2 linked regions of the Homo sapiens genome follow. The protein of the gene in region 2 binds, or shares a complex with, the protein of the main gene of each other region. Each region holds a gene or a part of one and is shown on either strand. Other genes may lie near its edges.

Evidence for each region. The genes of interacting proteins can lie anywhere in the genome.
Region 1: POLR1B (region 2) and RRN3 share a complex: the UniProt entries of both Homo sapiens proteins name them as parts of the pol I pre-initiation complex.

Annotation. Positions count from the first base shown.
Region 1 is NC_000016.10:15,070,035-15,077,360, forward strand, and holds part of RRN3 (RNA polymerase I-specific transcription initiation factor RRN3), read right to left. Parts: intron 6,617-7,326; coding exon 6,524-6,616; intron 4,828-6,523; coding exon 4,689-4,827; intron 3,047-4,688; coding exon 2,916-3,046; intron 1,218-2,915; coding exon 1,087-1,217; intron 221-1,086; coding exon 36-220; intron 1-35. UniProt on the Homo sapiens protein: Required for efficient transcription initiation by RNA polymerase I (Pol I). Required for the formation of the competent pre-initiation complex (PIC).
Region 2 is NC_000002.12:112,566,331-112,573,656, reverse strand, and holds part of POLR1B (DNA-directed RNA polymerase I subunit RPA2), read right to left. Parts: intron 6,900-7,326; coding exon of another isoform or gene 6,762-6,899; intron 5,691-6,761; coding exon 5,520-5,690; intron 4,912-5,519; coding exon 4,755-4,911; intron 1,096-4,754; coding exon 899-1,095; intron 96-898; coding exon 1-95. UniProt on the Homo sapiens protein: Catalytic core component of RNA polymerase I (Pol I), a DNA-dependent RNA polymerase which synthesizes ribosomal RNA precursors using the four ribonucleoside triphosphates as substrates.

The DNA.
Region 1 (7,326 bases), on a different chromosome or scaffold from region 2:
AGGAAAATCCAGTCCAGCACTCCCACAACACTGACCTTCTTTCAGGTTTCCGCTCAAAAGCTGCTTGTGTCTAAAAACAAAGGTGTAGAACACAGCTTGGCAGGCTGAGTAAAATGGTCCATGGAGAGCAACATCGCAGAATGCCTTTGTTCCCGAATCCTGGTTATTAAGGTATATGTGCAGCCAGTTAACCAAAAGATCTAGGCATGATTTTACAGTACTAGAGAAAAGAAAAATTCAAGTCAACTTTACACATCATAAAAAAACCAGAATAACATAAAAACACACAACTGCCTTTCATTACAAACCATGCTAAGTAAGTTCATAGGTTTCTTTAAATAATACCCATGGGTACAGAGGAAAAGCAAAGAAAGGAAGGATAAGGATGGGTGCGTAGGAAGACAACCTTCCAATTACAAGGCAGAGTAGCTCTGACCTTCTAGGAACAGGTGAGCCCCTAAGAACGTCCCAAGGGATGGAAAGCAGGTTCTCCTAACCATCTCAAAGGCACCCCTCTTAAGGTGATTGGCCAAACAGGACACGTTCACCAACACCTCTCAAGAGAAAGACAGTCTGGTGGACTTCAGTATTCCCTGATGCATCCTAGTCAAGTCCTATGGTGAATAATTTTGTGGTTGGGGAAGGGTTTCAACAGCATCCTTGTCCAAAGGTATCTTTATGGGCCACTGGAAGAAACTGGCCTCCTAGATAGGTCTATTACCTTTAAAAGGGTTTTTCTTCAGCTTTAACAGATACAATAGATTTGGAATGCAAATGAAAAAATGACAAACCTACAAAAAGAATCAAAACAGTATACAACACTGTCCTCTATCCACAAAACAAATGGATCTTTAAGTGCAACCAAAAGAGATGACAAAAGCCTTACATACAGGGTTTTATATATAAAAAAGGAGACACTTTATTCTAAAATCACCACTTAGAAATATAAACATCTTGCACAGAGTAGGGATTTTATTCACTTTAAAAACATGCCAAAAAAAATGGGAGATATTTCTGACTTGAGACAATGCTATACTCTTTTTAAAGCATGATATTAAAAAGTATTCGGAAAATTAGGCTACTTACATAAGAGGAATAAATTTAGCTCTTGCCAAAAAGCTTCCAATATAATTTCCAGCAGCCTGCCTGATGATGGCAGGATTACTTGGGTCCTGCAATTTTTTCCAGAGATGTTCCAAAAATGCCTCTGCGAATCCCTATAAAAAGAGAGGGCGTCGGTGTGATCTTTTTTAATGCCTAAGATAATCTGGCTATCAAAATCCCAAGATTTTTACTTCACCAATGTAGGGAAAAGTTCTACTATCTCATAACTATCTCATGGGCTTCATTTTTAAAACACATTGAGAGAATATCATTAAAAACAAAAGGCACCTCGGGTGTTAAATAATCCAGTGGATCCCAAACCTAGCTAAGCATCACAATCAACCCGGGGCCAGGCACAGTGGCTCACGCCTGTAATCCCAGCACTTTGGGAGGCCGAGGCGGGTGGATCACCCAAGGTCAGGAGCTCGAGACCAGCCTGGCCAACATGGAGAAACCCTGTCTCTACTAAAAATACAAAAATTAGCCAGGCATGGTGGCAGGTGCCTGTAATCCCAGCTACTTGGGAGGCTGAGGCAGGAGAATCGCTTGAACCCAGGAGGCAGAGGTTGCAGTGAGCTGAGATCATGCCACTACACTCCAGCCTGGGTGACAGAGTGAGACTCCATCTCAAAAAACAAACAAACAAAAAACAACAAAAAATTCAACCTGGGAGGTACAAATTCAATAGGTTTGTGACAGGGCTTTGGAATCCACATATTACAAAAACTCTTCAAGTGATTCCAATGTCAGCCAGAACTGGTGACCAACAATAATTCACATCCCATGGAGCTCCACATGGGCACTCCTGTGAGTGCAAAGCACCTTCCGGTCTCTGGACACACTGAACTCAACCACGAACAGAAATACGGACTAACGCACAGCTGGTATTTGAGTTAATTATGCCAATCATGGAAAAAAACAGACACAGCTTCTCACCAAAGGGTGTAACTTCCAACTTCTCCTAAATAGCGCTGTTCTAAAGCTAGGCACACCCATGTGGGCAGACTGAATTCAACCTTCTTTCCCATGACCAACACTCTCCTGATCTCTAGGAAGCCACAAAATCGTTGCAGAGAAGGAAAAGCCTTCTACATTCTTTCCCCCACCAAAAAAAAAAAAAAAAGAAGAAGAAGAAGAAAAGACAAAGCCTAAAGTTTTTAAAATTCTAGATTAATAAGTTGGTTTGGGCTAGTTACAACTCAACCCTTGGAAAGAATAAAGGAAATACAGTTAATTACCCCATATGAGATTTTAATAGAGAAAGGCTTAAGGGAAGAGCACCACCTAGTGACCAAAAGGCAGGATGACATTTTCGGAGCACCTAGCTGGGCTGGCAGGCAGCAATCTGTTTTCTCTCCAAGTGTACTGAGAAGGGAACGTGGGCCAGGCACAGTTGTTCACACCTGTAATCCCAACGCTTTGCGGGGCAGGAGGCGGGCAGATCACTTGTGGTCAGGAGTTCAAGACCAGTATGGCCAACGTGGCGAAACCCCACCTCTTCTAAAAATACAAAAATTAGCCAGGCATGGTAACCTGTGGTCCCAGCTATCGAGAGGGTAAGGACTGAGAGTCCGTTGAGCCCAAGAGGTGGAGGTTGCAGCAGTGGGCAGCAGAGCGAGACTGTGTCTCAAAAAAGAAAGGAAAAGAAAACAAAAAAAGAAAGGAGAATGCGATTTTATTAAGCAGACTAGCAAGTAAGCTCAAAGAAAAGAATTATTTACTTCATGGTCTCCGTCCACCCCAGTTTTTAGGGAAAATTTTTGGGCAAAAACAAAGTAAGCTAAGATAATGTTAATCACATTCTTACTCACCAATTTGAAACTACAGAGGTAAAACATGAAAAACTGTACATGGCAGGAGGCATGGGTGGGCAACAGGAGTTTGTCAAAGATGTTTATCAGGTCGCGATATAGATCCTTTGTTTTGCCGTTATCAACCTTACCTATGGAGAAAATCTGGCATCTCAGTTTTTATAAAGACATATTTTCAAGTTTCATCTGCCATATTTTTTATAAACACAACACCATTAAAAAACAACATTATCCAGCCAAGCACAGTGGCTCCTGCCTGCAATCCCAGCACTTTGGGAGGCCAAAGTGAGAGGGAGCCCGGGAGTTCAAGGGCAGCCTGGGGAACACAGGGAAGCTCTGTCTCTACAAAAAATCAAAAAATTAGCCAGGCATGGTGGCACGCCTGTGATCCCAGCTACATGGGAGGCTGAGGCGGATGAACCGCTTGAGCCCAGGAGGTCAAGGCTGCAGTAAGCCATGTTTGTGCGACTGCATTCCAGCCTGGGTTAGAGTAAGACCGTGGCTATTTAAAAAAAAAAGAAAGACAGACATTATCCATTAAAATACCATTAAAACAAAATGCTACTTTTAGTTTACACAGATTTTCCTCTGAATATAATAATCTAACACCTGCAAGGAAGCAGGCCCTCACCTCACACACTGTGGCAAGGTCAGAAATGCAAACCCTTCTGAAGAGCAATTCTATCATTCGTGTAGCAAAAGACCTCTAATCCGATCATTTTACTGTTAGTAAACAGCTGAATATATAGGCACAAGTATGTTCATTATAACTGTTACTTATCATGGTGAAAACAGTAAAAGACAGTTAAACCCATGTGACCAACAACATTTATTATTACGACTTTTTTTTTTAGAGATGGGGTCTTGTTATGTTGCCCAGGATAGTTAGTCTTGAACTCCTGGCCTCAGTGATCCTCCCACCTTGGCCTAAGTGCTGGGATTCAATAACAATTATTTTAAAACAGGCAATGATATGAGAAAATGTTTATCTTCAGCATCCATGTAAAGGGCAGATTATGAAACACTTGTGTTTAGTGTGACACCCAAATTCACTAAAAAATACTCTCCTACATATACAGACGCTAACAGAAAAGGGAAAAAAGTCAAACTTCAAAATGCTCACAATGGTTCTCTGAAGAGTAGAAATGTGGCCATTTAAATTGTTTTTATCCTTTCCTGTAGTTTCCAAATTCTCTAATCAACATGTATTATTTTTATAACAGCAAGACCGTTAAAACAGTAATGCAGTCAACTCAGATTCCAGTTCTATTATTCTGACTCACTGAGCTCATCTTAAATCTTAGCAATGTGAATGGAAAAAAATTCTGTTTTCGCCTGGCAAAGCCTTTAAAGTTCCATGAAGTCAAGAAGCACATATAGTACTAACACTGGCACAACAATGGTGCCAGGCAAAGACCCTCTAAACTCAATACATAACGGAGCACCATATATTAGTGCACCCTACATCATTCTTCAGTGCATTCAGCAACTTGAGCGTAATTTGATCTAAAACTGGCCAAACTCCATATATAATCTTTCAATACAACAATCAGTGAAAAGACAGAAGACAAATATAACTCAGCCAGAATCCCAGTCCCATTTTCAAGCTATGTGACTGGCAAGTAACTTGACCTCTTTAAATCATCTTAAACTCATACTCAATAGATATTTTTACAGGATTTTTAGTATTACTAGAGATAATGGATGGAAAATGCCCAGCACAAAGCCAGGTACACTGCAGGTGTTCAATAAACAGTAGCTACTGTGATTTACCATCTACATAGCAGACATCCTTCATGTAGGACAAAACCAAAGACATCAGGATGTCCAGGCGCTCGGCTACAGGATGCACCATCTGGTCGAGCCGTTCAGGACCAGCCTTTGTTTCATGTTCAGTTTCTTCATCTTCATCCTTTGAAGACAAAAAGTAAATACTAACATTAAAAAATTCAATGTCAAAGTGGTTTAGTAGGAAAACTGTCATAAGTGATTATTTCCCTTAAAAGATAAAACAAAGAGGCTGGGGAAAGCGGCTCACATCTATAAGCCCAGCACTTTGGGAAGCAGAGGTGGGGGGATCACTTGAGGTCAGGAGTTTGAGACCAGCCTGGCCAACATGGTAAAACTCTGTCTCTACTAAAAATACAAGAATTAGCCAGGTATGGTGGTGCACGCCTGTAATTCCAGTTACTCAGGAGGCAGAGGCAGGAAAATAGCTTGAACTGGGAGGTGGAGGAGGCTACAGTGAGCCGAGTTCGTGTGCTCCAGCCTGGGCAACAGAGGAAGACTCTGTGCCCCACCAAAAAAAAAAAAAAAAAACTAAACTAAAACAAAGAAATGGACCACGCACAGTGGCTCACGCCTATAATTACCAACACTTTGGGAGGCCAAGGCAGGAGGATCACTTGAGCTCAGGAACTTGAGACCAGCCTGGGCAACACAGTGAGACCTGTCTCTACAAAAATAGAAAAAAAGTAGCTGGGTGCGGTGGTACACTGTAGTCCCAGCTACTCGGGGAGGCTGAGGTGGGCAGATCACTTGGGCCCAGGAGGTCGAGGCTGGAGTGGGCCAAGATCACACACTGCCACACTCCAGCCTGGGCAACAGAGTGAGACCCTGTCTCAAATTAAAAAAGAAAGAAAAGAAAGAAAGAAATGCAGACACCTTTCCAGGCAGGGGTCTCATTCAGGGATGTGAATCAGAACCACCAGTGAAATTTAAAATAAAAGCCAAGACTCACAGCACCAGCTTCTGATTCTCATTGAGAAGACCCAATGAGACCTATCCATGCAAAAATCACAGATGCCCCCTACCTCTGCTCCTGGTGCCCACCATGGCGGGTGCTTTTGGTGCCGGGCCCCCTTTTGCAGGTCGGGATATCCACCTCCCCACTGCTGTGAGTACTGGCGGCCAATAGCTCACAGCCGCCTACTTTCTCCAGAGCTGCCCTGAGCAGAAAGGAGCCAGGACCACCCTTGCACTCTTTCCAGCCCCTCCCCCTTAGAACCAATGACTGATTGACAAGGCATCAGAAAAGGACATCTCCTTGGTCTCAAGCTGGGAACAAACTCTGTAGACCAATCCATGCCCCAGAATGCCTGGTGGGAGCAGGCTGTAGCGACCTCCCAAGTGAGACCCGGCCCCCGTTTAGCTCCCCTGCCCTCTTCTGCTCCCTGACACCCTCTGTCCCAAGGGCACCTGAATCCCTGTCTCAGACTCTCCTTCCACTGAACCCAACTTCAGATACCACCCAAAAGAAGTAATGCTATAAAGTGTACAAGTGGTAAAATGCAGAAATTAAACAGGTATGCTTTTCTATTAACCACGCCCTCACAGACAGCATCTGGCTTACAAAAACAAACACTGAAAGTTACAAGAACAAAAGTGAAACATACTTCACCAAACCCAAATTCAAAGCCTTGGAAATAGACCAACTATGCTAAGTGCTAAATGACATGGCAGCAAATTACTCATATAAGGAATCGTTTTCAAGTTTGCTGAACTATTTTAATTCTTTCAATCTAAAGCCTTAACAAAGATGAGCAGCACTAGCTGTTTCCACCCTTTATGATAAACTTCATCTCCACTTTCATTAATAAACTGCTAACCATATTAAACAATCCTTCCGTGGAATCTGTCCCACCACAAGTTTGAGTTGCTGTTTCTTCAGCATCTTCAATACCCTGCCGGGATGCATTCACCTATAACAAAGGGAGAAAAAAAAAGAATAAAAGGATTTAAAAAATACAACTATGTTATTTTGGGATGGAAATTCATCTGATATACGCATGTTCAAGGTGTCCAGATTAGTGCCTTATATCACACCCCAACACAATACACAATTATGGTGCAAGCCTGTAAACTGACCTAGGTCATGAAGGAATTTAAATATAATAAACCAAGCCCCTTTTACTACATACTTATATAAAATCGACAACTATCACATGATGCTCTATGCCAGGCAGCCTCAACAAATTCAACATTTATTCTAGCTCTGATATGGTCTGGCTCTGTGTCCCCACCCAAATCACTTTTTTTTTTTTTTTTGAGGCAGAGTTTTGCTCTTGTTGCCCAGGCTGGAATACAATGGCAAGATCTCGGCTCACCGCAAACTCCGCCCCCCAGGTTCAAGAGATTCTCCTGCCTCAGCCTCCCGAGTAGCTGGGATTACAGTCATGTGCCACTGTGCCCAGCTAATTTTGTATTTTTAGTAGAGATGGGGTTACTCCATGTTAGTCAGGCTGGTCTCGAACTCCTGACCTCAGGTGATCCACCGGCCTCAGCTTCCCAAAGTGCTGGAATTACAGGCATGAGCCACCGCGCCTGGCCCCAAATCTCATCTTGAATCGTACTCCTCCTGTAAGTCACACATGTTGCTGGGGGGGGACTGGTGGGAGATAATTTGAATCAT
Region 2 (7,326 bases):
TCTCCTTGTTTAATTTTTTCAGAGAGGTCTATGAACTCAGACTTGTAGACACTTCCATGGGCAAAGCCTCGTTCCCAAGAGGCCTTATTCACAATCTGTGAAGTAAAAGAATCGTTAAAAGACTGAGGCCAATTGAGGATTTTCAAAATAAAACTAGGTGGGACTATCATACTTGGTTTAGGATAACTGGCATCACATTTTAACTTTCCTCACATTTTCCAAATCACTGATACTAACTACAAAAACCCAGACATGGCTGGGCACGGTGGCTCACGCCTGTAATTCCAGCACTTTGGGAGGCCAAGGCAGGTGGATCACTTGAGGTCAGGAGTTCGAGACCAGCCTGGCCAACATGGTGAAACCCCATCTCTACTAAAAACACGAAAATTAGCCAGGCATGGTGATGGGTGCCTGTAGTCCCAGCTATTCGAGAGGCTGAGGCAGGAGAACTGCTTGAACCCAGAAGGTGGAGGTTGCAGTGAGCCAAGATCGTGCCACTGCACTCCAGCCTGGGCAACAGAGCGAGACTCCGTCTCAAAAATAAAAAACAAAAAACAAACAAACAAAAAACAAGAAAAACAAAAACCCAGGCACACAGAAATAGCTTAAAATCTAATCATACTTAAATATAAAAGGTAGATAGATCCAAAACCAAACTTCAAAATTTACTCATAATATGCACTCAAATATGCAAGACATACGTGTATCTGAATATTTAGTGGATATTCCTCAAGGCTTGCCCACTTTCAACTTAGACTAAGAACTAATCATTTAATAGAACATCACGTGCCAAATACTAGGTACTTGGGTACACAAAAATATTCCTTCAGTGATTTCACAGTAAACAAACAAGTTAAAAAATAAAAAGATTGGAACAACATTTCCTGGTAAAACTTACCATGGCATCTTCCATATCATAGCCAGTGTAAGAAATCACAGCAACGATGGCATTGGTCCCAATTGGATAGTTATCCATGTCATAATAATCATACATGGAGGGTCTCACCAAGGGACTCTGAGGAGTCTGAAGACGATACAGTTTGTTATCCGATCGGTCTTGATAAGTGAGAAGTGGAAAGCCCATAGTTTGCTTACCTACATGGAGAAAAAACATCTTAGCATTTTCTGCTGCTTTCATCTTGATTATAGGTGTGATACGCAACACTGGAAACAACTAAATATCCATCAGAGGAAAATGAACAAATAAATAGTCATGGTAGTTATGCTTACTTTAGACTAATACATAAGCTGTGAAAATGAAGTAAACCTAAATGTATCAACGTGACCAGACCAGGAAAACCATGCTGAGTGGGAGAAAGTGCAGACTGACATTTAATATGATACGATTTATGTGTATTTGCAACACACCCCAAACAATTCTATACTTAGTTTATGGATACATGTATGATGTAATAAAAGCTTTAGAAGGGGACAGAAAGGAAGTACGCAAATTACAGGCTATCACTACTCGGGGAAGAAAAGGGGATAGGAATTATTACGTAATTAGATTACTTTCTTACAGCGGAATATGTATTTAATTCTAAGTAGTGGAGCATGGGGTGAGATTCCTCTGTGTACTACCTCACAGTACAGAGAATCATTTCACGACAAAATGATTTTAAAATATAAATACATACAAGTGAAATTTTTAAAAAAATTATAGACTTAGAGCTTCCAGTAATAAAGGGCTACTCTTACTAGACCACCCTCAACACATAAGTATGAGACGCAGACCCCCAACTACACATACAGCACTGGAGAGTAACCAAAAGCTGTCAGAAGCTGAGAAGAATTTTTACTTGGACAAAAGGAACACACTGGGTGAATTTCCAGGTTTTTAAGTATTTATGTATTTATTTTTGCCTTATGGCCCAGTGTGGCAGCTACAACTTAGATAGAAACCCACAATCTTACTGGCTTGAAGAACCAAGAAATAGAGTTCTGAGCATGACAACAATTGGGAAGGGGGAACATTTCAGAAATGAGAGAACCACAAAGGGAGACCCTTAAATTCAGCATATAAATTGGGTCCGAATCTTTGGTGGACTCCTGAACTATGCATGCATGGGACAGATCACAGCAGCCCACCTAAGGCTGAAGAATGTACTTCAACTGCCACGTTCACCAAGTTAAGTACCAGTGAAAACTAAAAACCAATCCTCTTCCCCTGGAGAATTTTTGGTGACATGCACTGAACCAGGTGATGGACTGTGTATTAAGAAGGAAAGACATAAAATGAAAAAAATTAAAATGTAATTGAAGGCCAAACACCACACTAAAAACAAACAAAACCAATCCTCTTCAGAGGACCCTAACAGGATCCAGGGTTTAAAACATACTCCTCGCAATGTTCATAATACAATCCGATATTACTGGGCATACAAAGAAATGGTGAAACTTGACTTATACTCAAAGAGACTGATACTAAGATGACCCAGACATTGGAATCTGCAGATAATGATTTTACAACACCCATCATATAAAACTATGTTCAAAATATAAAGGAAAACATGCCCACAATGAATGAAGATAAGAAATCTTAGAGAAGAAAGAAACTATAAAAAAAGAAACAAGTCAGGCCAGGCGCAATGGCTCATGCCTGTAATCCCAGCACTTTGGGAGGCTGAGGCAGGCAGATCATTTGAGGTCAGGAGTTTGAGACCAGCCTGGCCAACATGATAAAACCCTGCCTCTACTAAAAATACAAAAAATTAGCTGGGCATGGTGGCACATGCCTGTAATCTCAGCTACTCAGGAGGTAGAGGCAGGAAAATTGCTTGAACTGGGGAGGCAGAGGTTGCAGTGAGCCAAGATCGTGCCACTGCACTCCAGCCTGGGTGACAGAGCGATACCCTGTCTCAAAAAAAAAAAAAAGAAAAAAAAAAGAAACAAGTAGAAGTGCTGGACTTGAAAAATACAGGCATGCACTGCATAACAATGTTTTAGTCAATGCAGGATGGCATATATACTATGGTGATCCCATATTTTTACTGTACCTTTTCTATGTTTAGCTACACAAATCCTTGCCATTGTCTTACAACTGTAGACAGTACACAGTACAGTTACATGCCACCCAGGTTTGTAGCCTAGGAGCAACAGGCTATACCATATACTAGGTGTGTAGTAGTCTCTGCCATCTAGGTTTGTGTAAGTTCACTCTATGATGTTCACACTACGACAAAATCACATATGACTCACTTCTTCGAAGGTATCCCTGTCGTTAAGGGCACATGACTGTAAGCAAAAATTCAGTAGAAGACAGAATAAAAAGTGACTGTGATAATAGGTCAATAAAAATAATCCAATCTGGGCCAGGTGCAGTGGCTCACACCTGTAACCCCAGCATTTTGGGAGGCTGAGGCAGGCAGATCACTTCAGGTCAGGAGTTTGAGACCAGCCAGGCCAACATGGTGAAACCGTATCTCTACTAAAACACAAAAATTAGCTGGGCATGGTGGTGTGTGCCTGTAATCCCAGCTCCTCAGGAGGCTGAGGCAGGAGAATTTATTGAACATGGGAGGCAGAGGTTGCAGTGAGCCGAGATTGTACCACTGCACTCCAGTCTGGGCAACAAAGTGAGACTCCATCTCGGGAAAAAAAAAAAAAGATCCAATCTGAAGAAAATAAAGAAAAAAGAGAACAGAAACTCAATGTCTTATGGAACAATATCAAAAGGTTTAAATATATGAATAACTGATAGAAGAGGAGGAAAGAGAGAAAAGGATAGGAGCAATGTTTTTAAAAATAATGACAGAAGAGTTTAGCAATTTAATTAAACTGAAAAAAAACAAAATTTGAGGCCGGGCGCAGTGGCTCACGCCTGTAATACAGCACTTTGGGAGGCCAAAGTGGGCAGGTCACCTGAGGTCAGGAGTTCGAGACCAGCCTTGCCAACATGGTGAAACCCCGTCTCTACTAAAAATACAAAAATTAGCTGGGTGTGGTGGTGAGTCCCTGTAGACCCAGCTACTTGGAAGGCTGAAGCAGGAGAATCACTTGAACCCAGGAGACAGAGGTTGCAGTAAGCCGAGATCACACCACTGCACTCCAGCCTAGGCGACAGAGCGAGACTCTGTCTCAAAAAAAAAAAAAAAGAAACACACTATATTCAGAAGACTGCTGCCTTCTAACTAGAAATGACAGAGACTAAGAAGAGACAGTGTAACAACAACTTTTAAGTGTTGGAAGAAAAATAACTGTCAACTCAGAATTGTATATCCAGTGAAAGATTCCTTCAAGTGAAGCAAAATAAAGACATTTTCAGATAAATGAAAACAAAGAGAATTTGTGGCCAGCAACCTGCACTATAAAAAAATGCTAAAGGAAGATTATCAGGCTGAAGGAAAATTGTATACAATGAAAACTTGAATCTTGCAGCAGGAATGAAGAGGACTGGAAGTGATAAATATGCGGGTGACTATAATTGCTTGTATTCTTCAAAAAATCAAATAATAAGACCTCAGGCACACCCAAATCTATGGACATTCTATACCTTTTTCTTCAAAAATGTCAATGTCAAAGACAAAGAATGTTTAAAGATCTGTCATAAATTACAGGAAACTAAATAGACATGCCAACTAAATACAATGAGTGATCCTGGGCTGGTTGCTTGTGGCACAGAAAAAAGAAAAACTTGCCATAAACTGTATTTTTGGAACAAATGGTCAGCATATGTAAATAAGGACAATAAAAGAGTGTGCTAGTATCAAGTTTACTTTCCTGATTGTGACTGTAACATCATCCCTCTTCCTTACCCATCTGGCATTGGTACATGTTCCGTGGACTCTGGTTGTGATCAGAGAAAGGGATGAAGTTGGCAATCACACTCAGCAGGCTGTGTGGAAAGAGTTCCTGGTGTGTGGTAACTCCAGCAAAAACTTCATCCTCAAAGATAGCGACATTCATGAAGATCTGGAAGAGCAGATGTCCAAGGCACAAAATAACTGCAACTGGTTACACATTTACTCTTACCATTTCTCAGAGTTCAGTACTCAAAGACTCAAGAGAAAACCATCCCCACCCAGCATCATGAGTGCTGAAGGGATCAACTGGGAAGCACAGGGAAGCGACCAGTTAGAAATACCACTTGCTTTACGTATCTCACTCTAAAACTACCCCAGACCAATTGTGAAGGGGAATAGGAAGAAAAATTTTTAAGTAGCACAAAGCCTATAATTTTGCAACTGTAAATATGTAGGCAAAGACTGAGTGTGAATCTAATGGAATGTTTTCACTTCACGGCTGAGGCAGAGCCAGGTACAAAGGAGTTCTGGGAGCTAGATAAGATGGGAGGCAGGTAATGTGACCACCAGCCCTCTCTCAGGTTCTGTGGAGTGAGATCAGACATGGAAATTGCTCTGTGCTGATCATAGAGGAGGTGGAAAGTCTGACTTTCTTTCAAATGTCCAACTGTTGTTGTAACATTAACAACCCTTTTAAAAAAGGAAGAGTTAAGTCTCTGAAAGTTGTATACTATACAAACAAGCACATACACTCATCCATCACACATATGTATTTACCTGTTCCATAGTTCCAATTAGCTCTTCTTTGCCCAATGCTAAGTTCTGCACAGGCCGTACCAGTCTACAAGGAGTGGTAAAAAGGAACAATCCTGGGTACAGACTTGGTTTTCCTGTCATGGGTATAAGGACCACTTCCATCCAGGGAGGAATTCTTTTCTCTCTCAACACCTGTTTTTAACAAAAACAGAGTTTAACAAACCTGTCCCAAGGCCATGGCTGTCGCTGCCAGTCTTATGCCCCATGGAATACCACTCATCCACACTCAGCCATGGTAAAAGCCCTACTTCCTTGGGTGCTCACCCCAGCTAGTAGGCAAATCACTAACTACTGAGGCTAAGGATAAAGCACACCATGAATGCACGTGTCGATACACTAAAGGAAATTCTGTCCTCTGTGATCTAAAATACAGTAGATTACTGGTTTTATTTGTAAATTTAATAAACCAAAAACTCATGGGTGGGCCGGGGGTGGCTTATACCTGTAATCCCAGCACTTTAGGAGGCCAAAGTGGGTGGATCACTTGAGCCCAGAGGTTCAAGACCAGCCTGGGCAACATGATGAAACCCCGTCTCTACAAAAATTAAAAAATTACCTGAGTGTGGTGGTACGTGCCTGTAGTCCCAGCTAATCGGGAGGCTGAGGTGGGAGGATCACTTGAGCCCAGGAGGTTGAGGCTGCAGTGAGCCATGATCATGCCACTGCACTCCAGCCTGGGTGACAGAGTGACCCTGTCTCAAAAACAAAACAAAAAAACTCCAACAAACTCCTGGGTGAAAGGAGAAATAAAAACCTAAATTACAGAAACCTGAAAACAACAACAACAACAACAACAACAACAAACCCATGTGTCAGAACTCATGGGGATTCACAGCTAGATGCATTATCATTAAAAATGAGAGAATGTTTGGTGGAGGGGGACACGGGGAGATGTTGGTCAAAGAGTATAAAGCTTCAGTTATGCAACAAAATTAAGTTTCTGGAGATCTCATGTACAGCATGTGACTATAGTTAAGAATACTATATTGCATGCTTGAAATTTACTAAGAGAGCAGATCTTAAGTGTCCTCATCCTCCGATGCTCCACAATGCTAACCAAAAAAAAGAGAATGAAAATAAATTCTCTATAAAAAAGATAAAATCTGAGACTAATGAGGCAGGTAGCTCATTTGAGGTCAGGAGTTCGAGACCAGCCGGGGCAACATGGAGAAACCCCATCTCTACTAAAAATATAAAAATTACCCAGGCATGGTGGTGTGCACCTGTAATCCCAGCTACTTGGGAGACCGAGGCAGGAGAATTGCTTGAACATGGGAGGCGGAGGCTGCAGTGAGCCAAGATCACACCACTGCACTGCAGCCTGGGCGACAGAGCGAGACTCTGCCTCAAAAAAAAAAAAAAAGAGGAATGATTGTTTAATGGTTACAGAGTTTCAATTTGTGATGATGAGAAAGTTCTGAAGATGGTGATGACTCCACAACATGAATGTACTTAAAACCCTCAACTGTACACTAGATCAAATCTCATACACTTTCTGAGCATCAAAATAAGTAGTAACAGAATATTCACAAAATTAAACAAGCATCTATAAATCTACGCTAACATAAATAAATGAACAACTAATAGAAAAGAAAGCCCTCCCTTACAGAATAGCAACTAATAAACATAGAAAAAATGCTGGTGGGGGAAAACACCATGTGGTAACCATCACAGTAATATTAACTCAGCAAAGAACCACCAATGGAATAGTAATTCAGCTAATAATCCATCAACTAGTGGGTGAAAATATGAAGAAAGAGGGCTCCAC